2 separate regions of the Homo sapiens genome follow, and region 2 is linked to region 1. A link means that fine-mapping ties the variant in region 1 to the expression of a gene that starts in the linked region. Tissue or cell type: testis. Region 1 holds a variant in brackets; the other region holds the start of a gene. All regions are shown on one strand. Distances are between the middles of the regions.

Region 1 (8,102 bases):
TTTTTTGTAGAGATGGGGTTTCACCATGTTGCCCAGGCTGGTTTTGAGCTCCTAGACTCAAGCAATCCTCCTGCCTCGGCCTCCCAAAGTGCTGGGATTACAGATGTGAGTCACTGCGCCCAGCCTGATAAAACCTTTTAAAATAGCTCCAGGCTCTTAGAAATGCACTGGGCATTCAGGTCCAAAGTAAGTTATAATATTTACCAACAAGGTATAAATAATTGCACAATAATATACACTGCAAACTGGAGAAAGCTCAGAGTACCTTGGTCAACCCCATGGGGTCCACAAGGTGCCATGAGAACAGGAGAGTGAAATCACCTCCTCCTCATCTCCACTCTTTGGGGTTTCCACAAATTTTCCACCGCTGAGATTTTTTTTCCCCATTCATTTTCATTTCTCCCTCCTCTGCTGCTTTCACAAAGCTACTTAGAGAGTGGGGATGGGGAAGAGGACTATGCTAGGCCTTCAAGTCCAGTAGCTCCCATCTTCCTAAGATCCTGTGGGGATCTTAAGACGGGTATAGCTTCCCTCATTTGATAAATGAGGAAAGTGAGGCTCAGAGAAGTCAAACTTGAATGACCTGCTTGGCCACTAGGATCTCCAAACAATGACTTGGAGTCACACTGCTTATGAATATGTCATTTCAAAAAACAGGTCCCCAATTCTCAGTCCAAGAGGATGAGTCACTTACTTGTAGGTTTTGGACCTATCCAGCCAGATTCCTGAGATCACAGCCCCAAGCATTCCTGCAATGACGATCGTCAGGCCAATTCTTCCAGCATTCACTTCTTCCCCCTGGGGAAACCATAACCCCAAAGATCACCCGGCGATGGGACAAGACCCAGGACAGAGCACAGTCACCATGGGGTGAAGGAACAAAGGCAGGTAACTCAAGCTCCATCAGAGTCAATATTCAGAACATATCGGGACAAGATGGCCTAGGAGAAAATTCTAGAATAACTACTCCTCCCAACAATATAACCCTGACTGTGTGTGCATGATATTGGATGCTGGAGTGACAAGGATGAACCAAATCTGTTCTTAGAACTACTTTTAGGCAAATTTTTTAAAAAATGTAAACCTCACAGCAACTCTTCTATCTTATCTGTCATTAATTCCATTTCACAGATGGGGAATTTAAAATATATATGTTAAAATTTCCATTCTTAGGTTTTTTTGAACTATCAATGCCAAGAGGAATGGAAAGATAATAGTTATATATTTTTGAGTGCTTACTATAAGCCAGGCACCATGCCTAAGGTTTTATATCATTATCTCATTTACTCCTCGCCATTCCCCATCATAAGGTTAGGAGTCAGTCTTCTCCATTTTGCAGATGAAGAAACAGGCACAATGAAATTAACCTACTAGCCCAAGGTCACAAGGCATATGTTAAGTTCAAAGCTAGGATCTGAACTCAGGCCTTTGAACTCCAAAACTAGGACACTTAGCCATATAGTCTACCCCTTCTGCAAGTGTGAGAGCCTAGTCCTTTCAAAAGAGGGTTGCATCTCCGTATTCCTGACTCCAGGCCACTCAGTATTCCATTCCCAGCATCCAGCCCAGCCCTCGTGGGTTCTGGAAACATTTAAATTCAGAAATATTTTATATATATATTTGCCAACAGTGTTGCCAGGCACTATGCTGTATAATAAATACATGTATCACATATAATTATGTATACATACACAAGCGTCATTATTTACTCTCTGATCCTAAAAAGAACCTTGCAAGAAGCAATTATGCTTCTTTTGCAGAAAAAAAAAAAAATGAGAGCTCAGAAACACTAACTAGCTTGTCACACTGTCAAGCCATCACACAGTTTAGTAACACCAAAGCTAGGGTTGAGATCTAGGGCCATCTCCCTCCAAATCCCATAAGCATACCACCATATCACCCTACCTAGAACTGGGGGGAATGAAGACTTAACGGTCATCCCAGGTCCTGCCAAGACAGACTTAGAAACTATATCATCTTGAGGCCCAACATGCTTAGGGAACTCCCTTACCGGGTAGTGCCAGATCACCATGCGATTCAGAAGAGTGGACAAGGCATAAAAAGCACCAGCATTCAGACCTGAAGAAGGGAGCGAGAAATACAACATTAGGGTCAGCTTTCTTCTGGGGCCATTGCTAACTTCTCCCCCAGCATTTGGGGGGTGGGCAGAAATCCTCATCTCACTGCCACTCTGAGCAGTATCCTCAGAGAAGAAAACTCCAGGGAGGTCTGAGGCTACTCTGCAGTTTTCTCAAAGAAATACTTCAAAACAACCAAAAGTAACCATTTAACCTTCCCTTAGCCACACACTATTGCTCTCTGATCCCTTTAATTTGCCCTGGAAAATAGATTCTGTTGAGTATTACTCCCAGGGCAGAGTCATCTACATTCTTCTTAAGCGTTGGGTAGATCTAAGGGGTGGTCAGTAGAAGTCCTGGACACCCTCCTCTTCCTGATGACCCTGCCCCTTCTTGAGGCTGCTCCAGACCTCTGACATCTGACACCATCCCTCTGCAGGTGATTTCTCTCCTCTTTCTCCATTCCTCCTCCAACTTTCTTTGCTGATTCAATGTCACACAAAATCTATTACATGAAACTAGAAGAGATCCTAAAGAGCATTCAGTTGACTCTCCTACTTTACCAATTCATTCACCAAAGGAGCACCTAGAATATGCTGTGAAAGGCTGTATCTTTAGCGAATAAGGTCATTTGCCCAAAGTCATACAGCAAGTGAGTAGCTGAGACTGGAACTGACCCAAAGGAGAAAAGGCCTCCTGGCCTCCCTTCAATGGTGATGATGATGATGACAATGGCGGCTGCACATACCTATGGATTAGACACTTTATGACAACTCTAGAAAGTAGGTAGTATTATCGTCACCATTTTAGAGATAATAAAGATGCACACACAGTTAAAATAATAAGTACTGCCACTCCATAATGCCCACCGGGGGTCTTTCTAACTTTAACTAAACATTGAGGCTCACAAGACTACCACCGGCACACTCCATATTAGATTTACTTGGAAGGGTGTAAGTCAGGACACATAGCTTGTGGACAGGGCAGCCTCAGGAGTTCCTCTTCAATGGAACCAATCCATAGAACCCCAGTTCATATAGCCTTCCGGAAGCTACTGTCTTTCAGATGATGGCTAAGGTGCAAGGGAAGGTGGGTATGGCAACCACCCTGGCTTAATGCTCACAGGCACCACTATTACTTGTAACAATTCCGTAGGGGTAGCTTCCAGGGGCCCCATAAGTGACAGGCCAGTGAAAAGAGTCATTGTACTCCAAGAAGCACAAAGAATGGCTTCCCACAAGAATGAATAGGTCTCTCTGTCCATTTGTATCACCAGAGGACATTTTTATCATAAGCAATGTTGCCTAAAGGTAGTTGAC[G/A]TACTCCCTTTATCAGGTTCCCAGGGAGTAAAAGATACAAAGTTAAGCGAAGGTCAAATTATCTTGCAAAATGGGAAATAATTTGCTTTGCAATCACACAGGTATTAAGTGATGGAGCTGGATTTGAACTCAGGCCCTGTGGCTCCAGATTTCTTGATCTTAATCACTCTGCTTTACATCCTCACAAAGCTGATTATTGAATCAGATTTTCCCAGCTCAGGTCATGAACAATTTCCTCATGTCCCAGCCTCTCCCAGCAGTTCACCCCAGGGATGCTACAAGGTTGGGCTCAATGCAGTCTCCTGAGCAGCACAGTGGGCCAACTGTGCACACAGTGAGCAGCACAGTGAGCCACAGTGGGCCAACCAACCCAGACATGTCCCCAAACATCACTACAACTGACAGGCTGATGGTTGCAATGATCATGAGGCTCTCAGCAACATCTCATTCAAGCAGCATTCCCATCTGCCCTTCATAGTACATACTCAGCCACTTAGAAAGTCCATTTCCGAGTGAAGAGATCCCGTAAGGAGACATTCCTGAAAAGCCAAGTGAGGTGGAGCGTGGGAAGGAGAAGAAAGAAAATAGTCTCCTCCCGTCTTCCCATTCATTCCTCCCGCTCCTCTCTAAGCCTCTTGCCTGCCCTAGCCTGATACTGCAAAGGGCAAGGAATGTTCCAACTCAGGCTTAGCTTCAGGGGAACAGCTGCTTTGCTAACTGGGATGAGCCAAGGATGGCAGAATCCACAGAAAAAGAAAGGAAATTATCCAGAAGGACTGGGAGCAAAAAAAATACACCAGTGCTCACTGGTCCTGATAAAGACCTGGGGAACAGAGTCCTGAACAGGTTGGCCCATACTGCTGAAGCTGAGTGGTTTTTCTGGGGCTCAATGGTTTAGTGAAATAGTTTCCAAAGTGTGGTCTCTGTTCCACCCCAGACCTACTGCAGCAGAAACTCTGGGAGTGAGGCCCCCGGCAATTTGCATTTGAATAAGCCTCCCAGGTGATTCTGATCGTGCTCCAGGTGGAAGCACTGGCTCCCTAGAGCAATGTGGTTAAACAACAGCCATCCCTGCTCCAGGCCAGACAGCAGACTGAAGCGGGGCTAAAGGGCGGCGAGAGGGAAGGAAGAGCAGGGGTTCATCCTGGAGGGCTGCCAATCTGTTCCACTGTTTCTGCAGCCCCACCTTAGAGGATTTAGGAGCTTATGTATGTTTTCTGAATCCATCTTTGGTCTAGATGTCCCTCACCATATTGTCAAAGTTTGCCAGACACAGTTAACCAGCGTAAGTCCACTCTACTGCCAAAACAAAGGGGTTGGGCATCCCACACAGAAGGGCAGGAATGAAATGCATGCTCCTTCCTGTGTGAGTACCCCTTACAGGAGTACAGGTGACTGCATTCTATTCAGGTCTGATCATCCTCAGCAAGGTGAGCCTGCTGGGCCAGGGAAGAGAAAATGTGATCTTCCCTGAAAGGCCTGGTCATTCCTGGAATCAGTCACCTGGGAGTAGTGCCACTTACTGAGGAGGCAGGCTTTAGAGAGGCAGAAAGGACTCTGTCATCATTCTGAGTCTCTTTCTCTCCTTTGTCAAAAACAATTTTTTTCTTTGTAAAAAATTTCTTTGGGGTCTCGCTATGTTTACCAGGCTGGTCTTGAATTCCTGACCTCAAACGATCCTCCCACTTTGGCCACCCAAAGTGCTGGGATTACAGGTGTGAGCCATCAAGCCCAGCCAATAACAATTTTATTCAAACTGTGTTCCGGTGACTACTGACATTAGAATTCCTTAAAGTTTAAAACTGCAGATTTTGAGGCCCTACCATAGACCTACTGAATCAGAATCTCTTGGAATGGGGCCCAGGAATCTGCATCTTTAGCAACTACAACAATAAAACCCCAATGCACTTGTTAAAATGTCTGGAATTTGAGAATACATGGCCTTCAAGATACAAAAGATCAGGGACCAGACCCAGGCTCCCAGGTGGTGGGGTTAACATGGAGGCAGCTGGGATGGGAAGGCGCTTCAAGACCCATCACACAGCTACCTCAGAGGTTCTCAACTCTGCTGCAAGTCAGAATTATCTGGGATGCTGGTAGAAAGCAGATTCCTAGGCCCCAACCCAAACTTTCTGAATCTGAATTTCCAGAAATCTATGCACACATTCAATCAAGCACCCCAGGGGGTCCTATCCTCAGGGAAGTCTGGGAAACACTGACCCCAGATCATATCTTTGGGTTTTGGTTATTCTGCGTTTCCCTTTAGTCCTTGTTTTAAAGGGCCAGCTTGACCTCGGCAAAGCTCCCAGGAATCTGGAGGATTTTATGCCCACTCCTCAGCCAGGATTTTAGAGGGGGCATGAAGCCCCCTCCCTAGGTCCATGTAGGTGGAGCAATGATAAAGTGCTGAGAGCCCCAAGGGAAGGTGAACCTTGGGATACACAAGTTGAGGCTCTGAGTTCAGATGCCAGAGGCACTGCAAGTTTATTCAGAAGCATGAATAATCTTGCTGGCAGCAAGTCTGGGGCATAACTATGGGAAAAGTACGCCCTTTGAGTATGCCATTTTCTAGAAGAGAAGCCTTTTCAACAATTCTTTTCAACAGGGCAGTTGTTATGCCATTGATAATAAGACATTAGAGGAGGCCATGTGAATGCAAGATCCAGAGACACAAAGAGAAGGTAGCCAGAGGAAGGTTCCTTTCTCCATCCCACCCTACCCTACTGTGAAACACACCAGAGACACAAAGAGAAGGTAGCCAGAGGAAGGTTCCTTTCTCCATCCCACCCTACCCTACTGTGAAACACACCAAAGACACTGGCAGACAGGTGGAATTTCTGGTTCCCTGAGTCTTCCCACATTGCCAAAGTTAAAGGAGAGAGGAAGGGTGTTTTACTGGCAGTTTCTTACTGATATGATATTTCCGCAACATCAAGCACGAGCTCCACCCCTGCACCTCTCCCCCTCTAAACTGAATTGCCAGATTTTGAAAAAAAATAGCAAATAAATACATTTATAATAAATAATAGTTCTTAGTATAAATATGCCACAAATATTGCATAAGACATATTTATATTAAAAGTATTTGTTGTTTATCTGAAATTCAGATTAACTGGATGGTCTTTATTTTATCTCTCAACCCTACCTCTAAGAGTGTAGCCAGAAGTCTAGGGAAAAGCCAGCAACACTTGGACCCTCGATTTCCTCCAAGGCCTTCAATTATCGCTGCACCTCAGTTCTGGGCAGTTGACTCATCAGCTGGGAGAACCACTTGAAAAGCCACTACAAATACAATACCACCAGCTGCAGGACAGTTACTCCCCCTCTTAGTGAAATCTGGTTTGGACCAAAGAAGCAACGCTGGAAACCAGTAAGTTTACCAATGCAATAGCATTGCAGTCTGGCAATGGCAGACTGGCAGTCTGGAGGCATGCCATGTCTTTATTCTCAACTGCATTAAAAGCTTTCACTTCCATTCAGAACACTCCAATGGGAAATAAGTATCATTACTGTTTTCTAGTGGGGGTGGAGAGTATTAAAGAGATGAAGGATGGGCAGCACAGATGGATGAAGGTGGTACACTCAGTATCTGGCAGAGCTGACACCAAAACTCAGACCTCCCATTTCTTATGAGCCAACTCTGAACTTACGAGTCCAGCACTCAAGGCTCTTAACCCAAGACATGTCCACCCATGTCCAGTACATGTGCCTGTGAAATGCTGTTGCCTGCTTAATTCCTAGCCACATGCTCTTTAAATGCATATAATTCAGAGCTAAATATGAACACTATGTGTACAATGTAAAAAGTATGAACCATTTTGTTCTTCAAAGTCCAATCTGAAACTGCAAGGGGATTAGGAGGACTGGGGTAATTCTGGAGGATTTCAAAGCATCTAGTTGAATTGATAGAGGGCATTTTAGAAAATTGTTTTTGTTGGGAGGCCAAGGCGGGCAGATCACCTGAGGTCAGGAGTTCGAGACCAGCCTGGTCAACATGGTGAAACCCTGTCTCTACTAAAAACACAAAAATTCCCTGGATGTGGTGGCGGGTACCTGTAATCCCAGCTACTCGGGAGGCTGAGTCAAGAGAATTGCTCAAACCTGGAAGGTGGAGGTTGCAGTGAGCCGAGATCATGCCACTGCACTCCAGCTTGGGCGACAGAGTAAGACTCTGTTTAAAAAAAAAAATTGTTTTTGTTTTTGTTTGTTTTAATTTGGAACAAACACAGTAGGAAAAGAAAGCAAAGATTAACAGTTGGAGTAAGTGCCTATAGTTCTCGCCCTATAGGCAAGAAGCTAAAACTCTAGAGCCTCAGTTTCCTCATGTATAAAATGAAACAAAGGGCTATGTCATGGGTTTGTTTTGAAAATTAAATGAGATAATGCATGTAAAGCAATTAACATGATTCCTCCGTCAAAAATTTTTTCAAATCTGTGATTAAGTCTAAGAATCATTTTCTTTTTGGCAAAGAACCCCATATGGACATCACATTCTCCAGAGTTTCCTTTCAGCATTTTCAGGCAGCCTCTTGTTCACCCCAACTGTTATCCCCACTGCAGGCAGCTACAATGTTAAGCAGTGCCATTGACTGTTTTCAACAAATGCCCTGGCAATAGGGCTTTTCCCATTAGCAAACTCCAAGTCAGGTTAAATAGCAACATGTCCTATGAATAGGGCTTTTCCGGGGACCTGCTAGGTAGGTCA
Region 2 (8,102 bases), 53 kb after region 1:
CACCCTGTAGCCTTTCTGTCCAAACAACTTGACCTTACTGTTTTAGGCTGGCCATCATGTCTCCGTGTGGCAGCCGCCACTGCCCTAATACTTTTAGAGGCCCTCAAAATCACAAACTATGCTCAACTCACTCTCTACAGTTCTCATAACTTCCAAAATCTATTTTCTTCCTCACACCTGATGCATATACTTTCTGCCCCCCTCCACTACCTCTCAGCAAGCCAAACTCATTGCCTTAACTCGAGCCCTCACTCTTGCGAAGGGACTACATGTCAATATTTATACTGACTCTAAATAGGCCTTCCATATCCTACACCACCATGCTGTTATATGGGCTGAAAGAGGTTTCCTCACTATGCAAGGGTCCTCCATCATTAATGCCTCCTTAATAAAAACTCTTCTCAAGGCTGCTTTACTTCCAAAGGAAGCTGGAGTCATACACTGCAAGGGCCATCAAAAGGCATCAGATCTCATCACTCAGGGCAATGCTTATGCTGATATGGTAGCTAAAGAAGCAGCTAGCATTACAACTTCTGTCCCTCACGGCCAGTTTTTCTCCTTCTCATCGGTCACTCCCACCTACTCTCCCACTGAAACTTCAACCTACCAATCTCTTCCCACACAAGGCAAACGGTTCTTGGACCAAGGAAAATATCTCCTTTCAGCCTCACAGGCCCATTCTATTCTGTTGTCATTTCATAACCTCTTCCATGTGGGTTCCCGCCTCTTAGAACCTCTCATTTCCTTTCCATCATGGAAATCTATCCTAAAGGAAATCACTTCTCAGTGTTCCATTTGCTATTCTACTACTCCTCAGGGATTGTTCAGGCCCCCTCCCTTCCCTACATATCAAGCTTGGGGATTTGCCCCCGCCCAGGACTGGCAAATTGACTTTACTCACATGCCCCGAGTCAGGAAACTAAAATACCTCTTGGTCTGGGTAGACACTTTCACTGGATGGGTAGAGGCCTTTCCCACAGGGTCTGAGAAGGCCACTGCGGTCATTTCTTCCCTTCTGTCAGACATAATTCCTCAGTTTGGCCTTCCCACCTCTATACAGTCCAATAACGGACCAGCCTTTACTAGTGGAATCACCCAAGCAGTTTCTCAGGCTCTTGGTATTCAGTAAAACCTTCATACCCCTTACCGTCCTCAATCTTCAAGAAAGGTAGAATGGACTAACGGTCTTTTAAAAACACACCTCACCAAGCTCAGCTTCAAACTTAAAAAAGAGGACTCTGTCAAGAATAGAGCCCAAAAACTCACCAAACAAACAAGTAATTATGCTAAATCCCCTTGGACCCCTTTGGACACTCTCTAATTAGATGTCCTAGGTCCTCCCAATTCTTAGTCCTTTAATACCTGTTTTTCTCCTTCTCTTTTTCAGACCTTGTGTCTTCCGTTTAGTTTCTCAATTCATACAAAACCGCATCCAGGCCATCACCAATCATTCTATACGACCAATGTTTCTTCTAACAACCCCACAGTATCACCCCTTACCCCAAAACCGTTCTTCAGCTGAGTCTCTCCCACTGTAGGTTCCCACGCTGCCCCTAATCCCGCTCGAAGCAGTCCTGAGAAACATCTCCCATTATCTCTCCATACCACCCCCAAAATTTTTCGCTGCTCCAACACTTCACTATTTTGTTTTGCTTTTCTTATTAATATAAGAAGACAGGAATGTCAGGCCTCTGAGCCCAAGCTAAGCCATCCTATCCCCTGTGACCTGCATGCTTCAGGCAATCCAGATTGCCTGAAGCAACTGAAGATCCACAAAAAAAGTGAAAATAGCCTTAACTGATTTCATTCCACCATTGTGATTTGTTTCGCCCCACCCTAATTGATCAATGTACTTTGTAATTTCCCCCACCCTTAAGAAGGCTCTTTGTAATTCTCCCCACCCTTGAGAATGTACTTTGAGATCCACCCTGTCTGAAAAACATTGCTCCTAACTCCACCACCTATCCCAAAACCTATAAGAACTGATGATAATCCACCACCCTTTGCTGACTCCTTTTTCAGACTCAGCCTGCTTACACCCAGGTGAAATAAACAGCCTTGTTGCTCACACAAAGCCTGTTTGGTGGTCTCTTCACATGGACGTGTGAGACAGGATTACCAATCCTTTGTTAAACACACAGCCAGGACTGTACGTGCTTGGAAAGATGCGAGACTGGGAGGCAGTGGTCTGGCTAAAGGACGTTTGCTTTAAATATTCCCATAAATATTTGCTTCGAGTATTTGGAGACGGCATTCAGGTTCACAACCTGCCCAGCTTTCTGGATCATAACCACATTGAGATGCAAAGAATTTGAGCTTCTCCTTCCAATAAGAAAGAAAGAGAAAAAGATTAAGACATGAACTACCCTTTCTAGGCCATGGAAACTCAGAGTGAGATTTCTACTCCATCCTGCTGGACTTGGCTCTAAATCCCAGGCAAGGAGTTTGGCACAAAGCACTGCTCCCACTGTCCTGGCTTCAGCTGTGTGTAAAACAAGGTAAAAGCAGTGCCAAACACCACCAGGCATGGCTTTGCAATTCTATGCAGTAGAGGAGATACTGCACTCTAGGAAAGCTGGTTGGTCCAACTGAAAGCACTGCCAAGTTCTGATGACACCAGAATAGTCTGATGCCCAGGGGCTGCTGCCAGACAGAAGAGCATTCCTGAAATTACAGGTCTAAGTTGGTGGACTGACACAGGTTCGAGAACGACACAGCGAAGGTATAGTATGTTCTAGAAGCATGCTTTTGGCTGGGGCAAGAGCAACTGTGGATGAAAGAGCAGGTCCCCCTGCTTTTGTTTCCCGCCTCTCTTACAGCATCACAATCACTGCCTGTCACACCCAGTTACTGTCACCCAGAGTCACAAACACTGTTGGACAATCAGCAAATTATAGCCTACCACACCCAATAGTTAGGTGCAATCTAACACACGCCCCTGGGAACATTCACAAACTGTTCTACCTACCTGATTGCCAAAGACAGCCACGGAGCAGGCTGTTGAAACCTCATTAGCCCCGAACCAGACGGAAGCGATGCGGGAGGGCATGCCCAGGATGAAAACCTGGGCCACAGAGCAGATGAGCTGGCCCACCACGGTGACCGGAAAGAGATGCGGCTTCAGGCTGCCCAGCTTCACCCAGGCCCCCAGGCAGTTGAGAGCCGAGCCAGTGAGAGCAATGGTGCGCAGGCCGAACTTCTCCAGCAGCCAAGCCACTGGCAGGAGCAGAGGGATGTAAGTCAGCATGTAGCACATGGACAGCCAGTCAATGGCAAAGGCACTGACACCGTAGAAGTGCATGAAGATGTTATTGATGGAGCCGTACTGGATCCACTGAAAGGAGTTGCACATGGAGTAGCAGCTAAACACCAGGACCACGGCCCAACGGCGCCTGCTCACCTTGATCACGCTGAGGTCCTCAGGGCCCGAGCTACTGGGGTGAGCCAAGCCACTGGGTTGGGCTAAGGCACTGGGGTGGGCCGAACTGCTGGGGTGGACAGAGACGCTGGGGTTGATGGAGACGCTGGGATGGACCGAGACGCTGGGATGGACCGAGACGCTGGGGTCCGCTTGGAGTGCGGACTCCGGCACAGGGGTGTCATCGCTCTCTTCCTGGTTGGGACCTTCATTCACCATCGCCACAGTCTCCTCTGGAATCCTGGAGAAGTGGTGAGGACTCCGGCAGTCTTAAGGGACAGTGGCCTCTGCTGGTCTCTTAGAGTTGAAAGGACACTTGCCTATTCCAGAAGAAACAGAGACTAGAGGCTGCGTAAAAGCCTCAAGTGGGGCTTCCTGTGCTCACCTCCAAGCTCCTGCTCCCACTTTTGCTTGGGGCTCTCTGTTGCCACCCGCGGCGATCGCTGTCCCAAGGCCGGCCGCACACGCCGCAGCCGGCTCCGGACCGCTCCTGCCTTGGGTCTCCCCACGAGGCGTTCCTTGTGCAGGAAAAGTTCTCTCCTTGCGCAGCCACTTCGCCCGCAGAGTCCTCTCCCGGGCCAGCTTGGGGCCTCGCCCAGTCGGGCACACGTGACCGCCCCGCCCCCGTCCTGCCTGGCTTCTTCCGCCCCCAACCCCCCCGCCACCACTCCACCCCCGACCCAGTGTCTCTTGCCTTCTCGAGCCCGGTCCTCCGGGCAGAGCAGTTGTTTCGCCACAGCTTGCGGGATGCATTCCTCCCCCACGCCCCGGGCGCCATGGAAACCGCCCGGTTAACCCCCACCCTTTGCACTGCCCCTCATATTCATTTGCCACCCGCTATCAGCGGACCCTGCAAGAAGATCCGCCTTCCCGAAGTAATGCCCAAAATAGAGCCTCTCCGGTGCCTGTCCGCATGCCCTGCGCGCGTGCACCAAAGCCCGGCGCCACCTAAGTGTTCTGGGGAATTCAAGAGGGATTCCCCAACTTTCTCCCCCTTGGCTTAGGCTCCCAGCCCTTTGCTGAACTAAAGAGAGATTTGTAGATTTCCCGGGCTGGTTGCGCTCCTGGGTTAAAGGGGAGTTACAGAAAACTCGCTTTACTCGCTTCTTTCCCTGCGGACGTGGTTTTGTCTTGGGGAGGTTAGATTTGAACCTGTTATGTGGGGCTATTTTTCCTGATGGATTCTGGGCGAAGACCCTAGGGTGCGGGGGAGGGAAAGGAGAGTTTGAAGAAGCCGAAGAAGCTGTCCGCGGTTGTGTGATGGAACGCTTAGCACAGAGCTGGCTCCGGGCTTGGTCTTGGAAGCGGTCTTTGAACTCAAGCAGCCCTAGTCTGCCACCTGCCGGTCCTAGCCCATTTCAAAGGGCAAACCCTCGACTCGTTGCACTGACCTCTGTCCTTGGCGAGGGATCCTGGTAAGGAGCCCAAATTCTCCCTGAGTTCAAACACCAGCTTAGCTACAATGAGGTGCCACTGTAGACCAAGGAACTCCACCTCTCTGCGCTTCAGTTTCTTCATCTGTAAAATGGAAATGATGAAATAATAGTACCTACCTCACCGTGTTGTTCTGAGACTTGAATGAATTAATACACGAATGCACTTAGAAAATTCCTGCCACATAGTAAGCATTCCGCGAATGCTGGCTATCCTAGCAAAAAGCTAACATTTGTTGTACAGTGCTAAACAAATTGAATGCATTAGCTCATTTATGCATCACAAGAATTCTGTGATAAAGTTACTATTGCTGGCCTAAATTTTATAGACAAGAAAACCCAGACTCAGAGAAGTGAAGTAACTTCTTTCTGAAGGTCCCAGCTGGCAAGAAGAGCCATAATTCTCGTTCAAGTCTGTAATCATTCAAGCTGTAGCCTAGCTATTCAAGCACAGTCTGTGGTTAGCAGCGTGGGCACCTGTGGGAGCTTTTTAGAAGGCCAGAATCCCCTCCAGTGTTAAGGCCTTAAAAAACAAAACGGCAACCACAAAACAACCAAGAAGGTTGTCAGGCCCAACCTAGACCCACTGAATTGAAAGCTGCATTTTAACAAGATGCCCAGGAGATTCATTTGTTTACACATTAAATTTTGAGAGCTACTGGGCATCACTGCTTCTTTATTTTTTTTTTCTTTGTTAAACTTCAGACCAGAAAATGAATAACTTGAAGCTCTGGGAAGTGGCTCTCCATTTTGTCTGCACATTAGAATCATATGAAGAAACTCTTAATATCCCAAGTGTTCGGGCAACACCCCATTTAGCGATCTCCGAGGGTGGACCTGAACATCTGCATGTCACAAGCTCCGCTGGTCATCCAAACGTGCAGCCAAGTTAGAACCACTGATTCCCAGGAGAGAACTAGATTCAAATGATCACTCCCTGCTTGAAGGCACCTACTTTTTGGTAGAAACTATAGAGTCTTGGATTATAATGGAATATTTGGAGAGGGAGTTCAGACTCAGATCTAAGAATTTCTACAGTAATTTAACATCTCGTATTGTCACTATTCCTCCTGTGTTTCCCATCATTCTCCAGGGAGCACAGAACTCTGTTCTTTTAGAAGGCCTTCTGAGACCTCTCACTGCTTCTTTTCCCTCGGTCATCATGGGCCTCTTCCAAAACTCTTCATAATATATTCTTAACTTCATTTTACAGATAAGGAAACTGAGGCCTGGAGAGGCGGGTGTGTTACTCAGCGTCCTATAGTGAAATAGCATCAGAACAAGCAGCAATAAAATGGGTGCTCCTTCCACGTGGCCTTTCCCATGAGCTCTTCTGGGGCAGCCCTTCAGCTTGGTGAGAGATTCCAAGGGGTCTAACCTGGGATTCAAGTGAGATTTGGAATTGCTTTTGTGGTGGAACGAGCTGGATCTGTTGTGAGATCTGGGTTGGGTCTGCTTAGACTTGAAGCTCTGTTTTGTCATTCTTAGCTTTGGTATCTTGAGCAAGTCACTTGACCTCTCTATTCTTCAGTTTCTGAATCTATCAAATAAGGATTAAAAATACCTGCCTCCAGCCTGGCACGGTGGCTCACACTTGTAATCTCAGCACTTCGGGATGCCGAGATGGGTGGATCACTTGAGGTCAGGAGTTCAAGACCACCCTGGCCAACATGGTGAAACCCCGTCTCTACTAAAAATACAAAAATTAGCCAGGTGTGGTGGCACATGCCTGTAATCTCAGCTACTTGGGAGGCTGAGGCAGGAGAATCACTTGAACCTGGGAGGCAGAGGCTGCAGTGAGCTGAGATGGCACTACTGCATTCCAGCCTGAGAGACAGAGCGAGACTCTGTCTCAAAAACAAAAAAACAAAACAAACAAAAACCTGCCTCATAGAATTGCTGTGAGAATTAAACAAGCTAATATGCATAAACTGTTTTCAATAATAATGATCATATTCTGGGAGCCACCAGGGTAGGGATGACTCTTGGCTGATTCCTAATGTGGGGGGTAGGGTGTTGGGGTCATCTCTATAAATATTGGGTAGATACTACATAGAGAGAAATATTCTGTATTCATCCCATTGAAAAAACATGTATTGAGCAGCTTACTATGTAGCATATCTATCTTTATGATGTTCTTACTATGTAGCATATCTATCTTTATGATGTTCTATCTATCAGTACCTATAGGTACACTTTGAAGGGTAAGGAGAAATACATTTTAGGGATTGCTTCCTGAAAGGGGGCTCTGGTTCCTGGTTCCTGGCTCTATTCCAACTGACACCTTAGGAAGCTTGAGGGAACGAACCTCTGGCATTGAACTCAAGCTTGTGTGGCCTCTTGCAGAATGATAGTTAAGTCAGCCCACTGGAGGCTATCAGCAACTCCTGGATTCAAAGCCAAAACATCACCCTCTTATTTATAGCTTACTACTAGCCAAACAGAGCTATAGATTTAAGAGGTAAGGAGTTTGTTGAGTGCAGGGGAAGGCCAAATTTCTAACAGAATGAATCAGGTTGGGAGCCGGCATTATTCTTTCTTAAAAATATCAACACTTGGAATTTGTGAAAATGTTGCCCTTACAAGTTTTACATGCATAATTTATATGTGTGATACTACATGCTCATCAATATTCTGTTTGCCTTATCTCCCCCACTTCCCTCAGATTTCTAGCTGTCTCAGGACTTGTGGATATTTTTGTATATTTTGGAGTGTTTAGTGAGATAAACTATGTAACACACGCTCTCAATACGTATCTGTAGAATTGAGTTGTACTGCATATCACCATGAAATTTTACAAAACTGGAGACAAAGAGGAGATCCAACAGGATTTCAGAGATTTTAAAAAATCAGAAAAAGTTAAAAAAAAAAAACCAGATACAAAATATCAACACAGTTGCCTCAAGCCTGGAAATTTGAAGTCAGTGGAACAATGCCTTCTGAAGAAAAACCGTTTCTTACCTAGAATGCTATATCCAAACTACCAAAAAATCAGTTTGAGAAGAGAGTGAAACAACAAATGATACTGCCTTATCTTCTCTCTCAGGAAGCTGCTGAAGGATGTGCTCCACCAAAACAAGGAAGGAAACCTAGAGAGGGGAAGAGGTTAAGGCTGAGGAAACCGGGAATCCGCCACAAAAGGCAAACAATGGGAATCACCCAGCTAAAGGAAACTCCTGGGTAGACAGCTATCTACCAGGCATAAAAAGCAGTGTACTCGGCTGGTCGTGGTGGCTCATGCCTGTAATCCC

The links. PIP is the estimated chance that this variant, and not a neighbour inherited with it, causes the effect.
Region 2: it holds the start of FLVCR2, and the variant in region 1 is fine-mapped to the expression of FLVCR2 in testis (GTEx, PIP above 0.99).

The regions. Positions count from the first base shown.
Region 1 is chr14:75,627,606-75,635,707 of GRCh38, reverse strand. FLVCR2 (FLVCR choline and putative heme transporter 2) reads right to left here. Exons shown (of 10, transcript NM_017791.3): 4 at 2,012-2,079; 5 at 695-798. Among named protein-coding and RNA genes, the nearest start is that of ERG28, 29 kb to the left of the region's middle. The variant G/A (reference allele first, on the strand shown) is at 3,398.
Region 2 is chr14:75,574,508-75,582,609 of GRCh38, reverse strand. It overlaps FLVCR2 (FLVCR choline and putative heme transporter 2), which reads right to left and starts at 3,990. Exons shown (of 10, transcript NM_017791.3): 1 at 2,969-3,990. The coding sequence starts at 3,637. It overlaps FLVCR2-AS1 (FLVCR2 antisense RNA 1), which reads left to right and starts at 3,022. Exons shown (of 3, transcript NR_110552.1): 1 at 3,022-4,833; 2 at 6,065-6,205; 3 at 7,517-7,709. RefSeq lists a silencer at 4,045-4,114 and an enhancer at 4,825-4,884.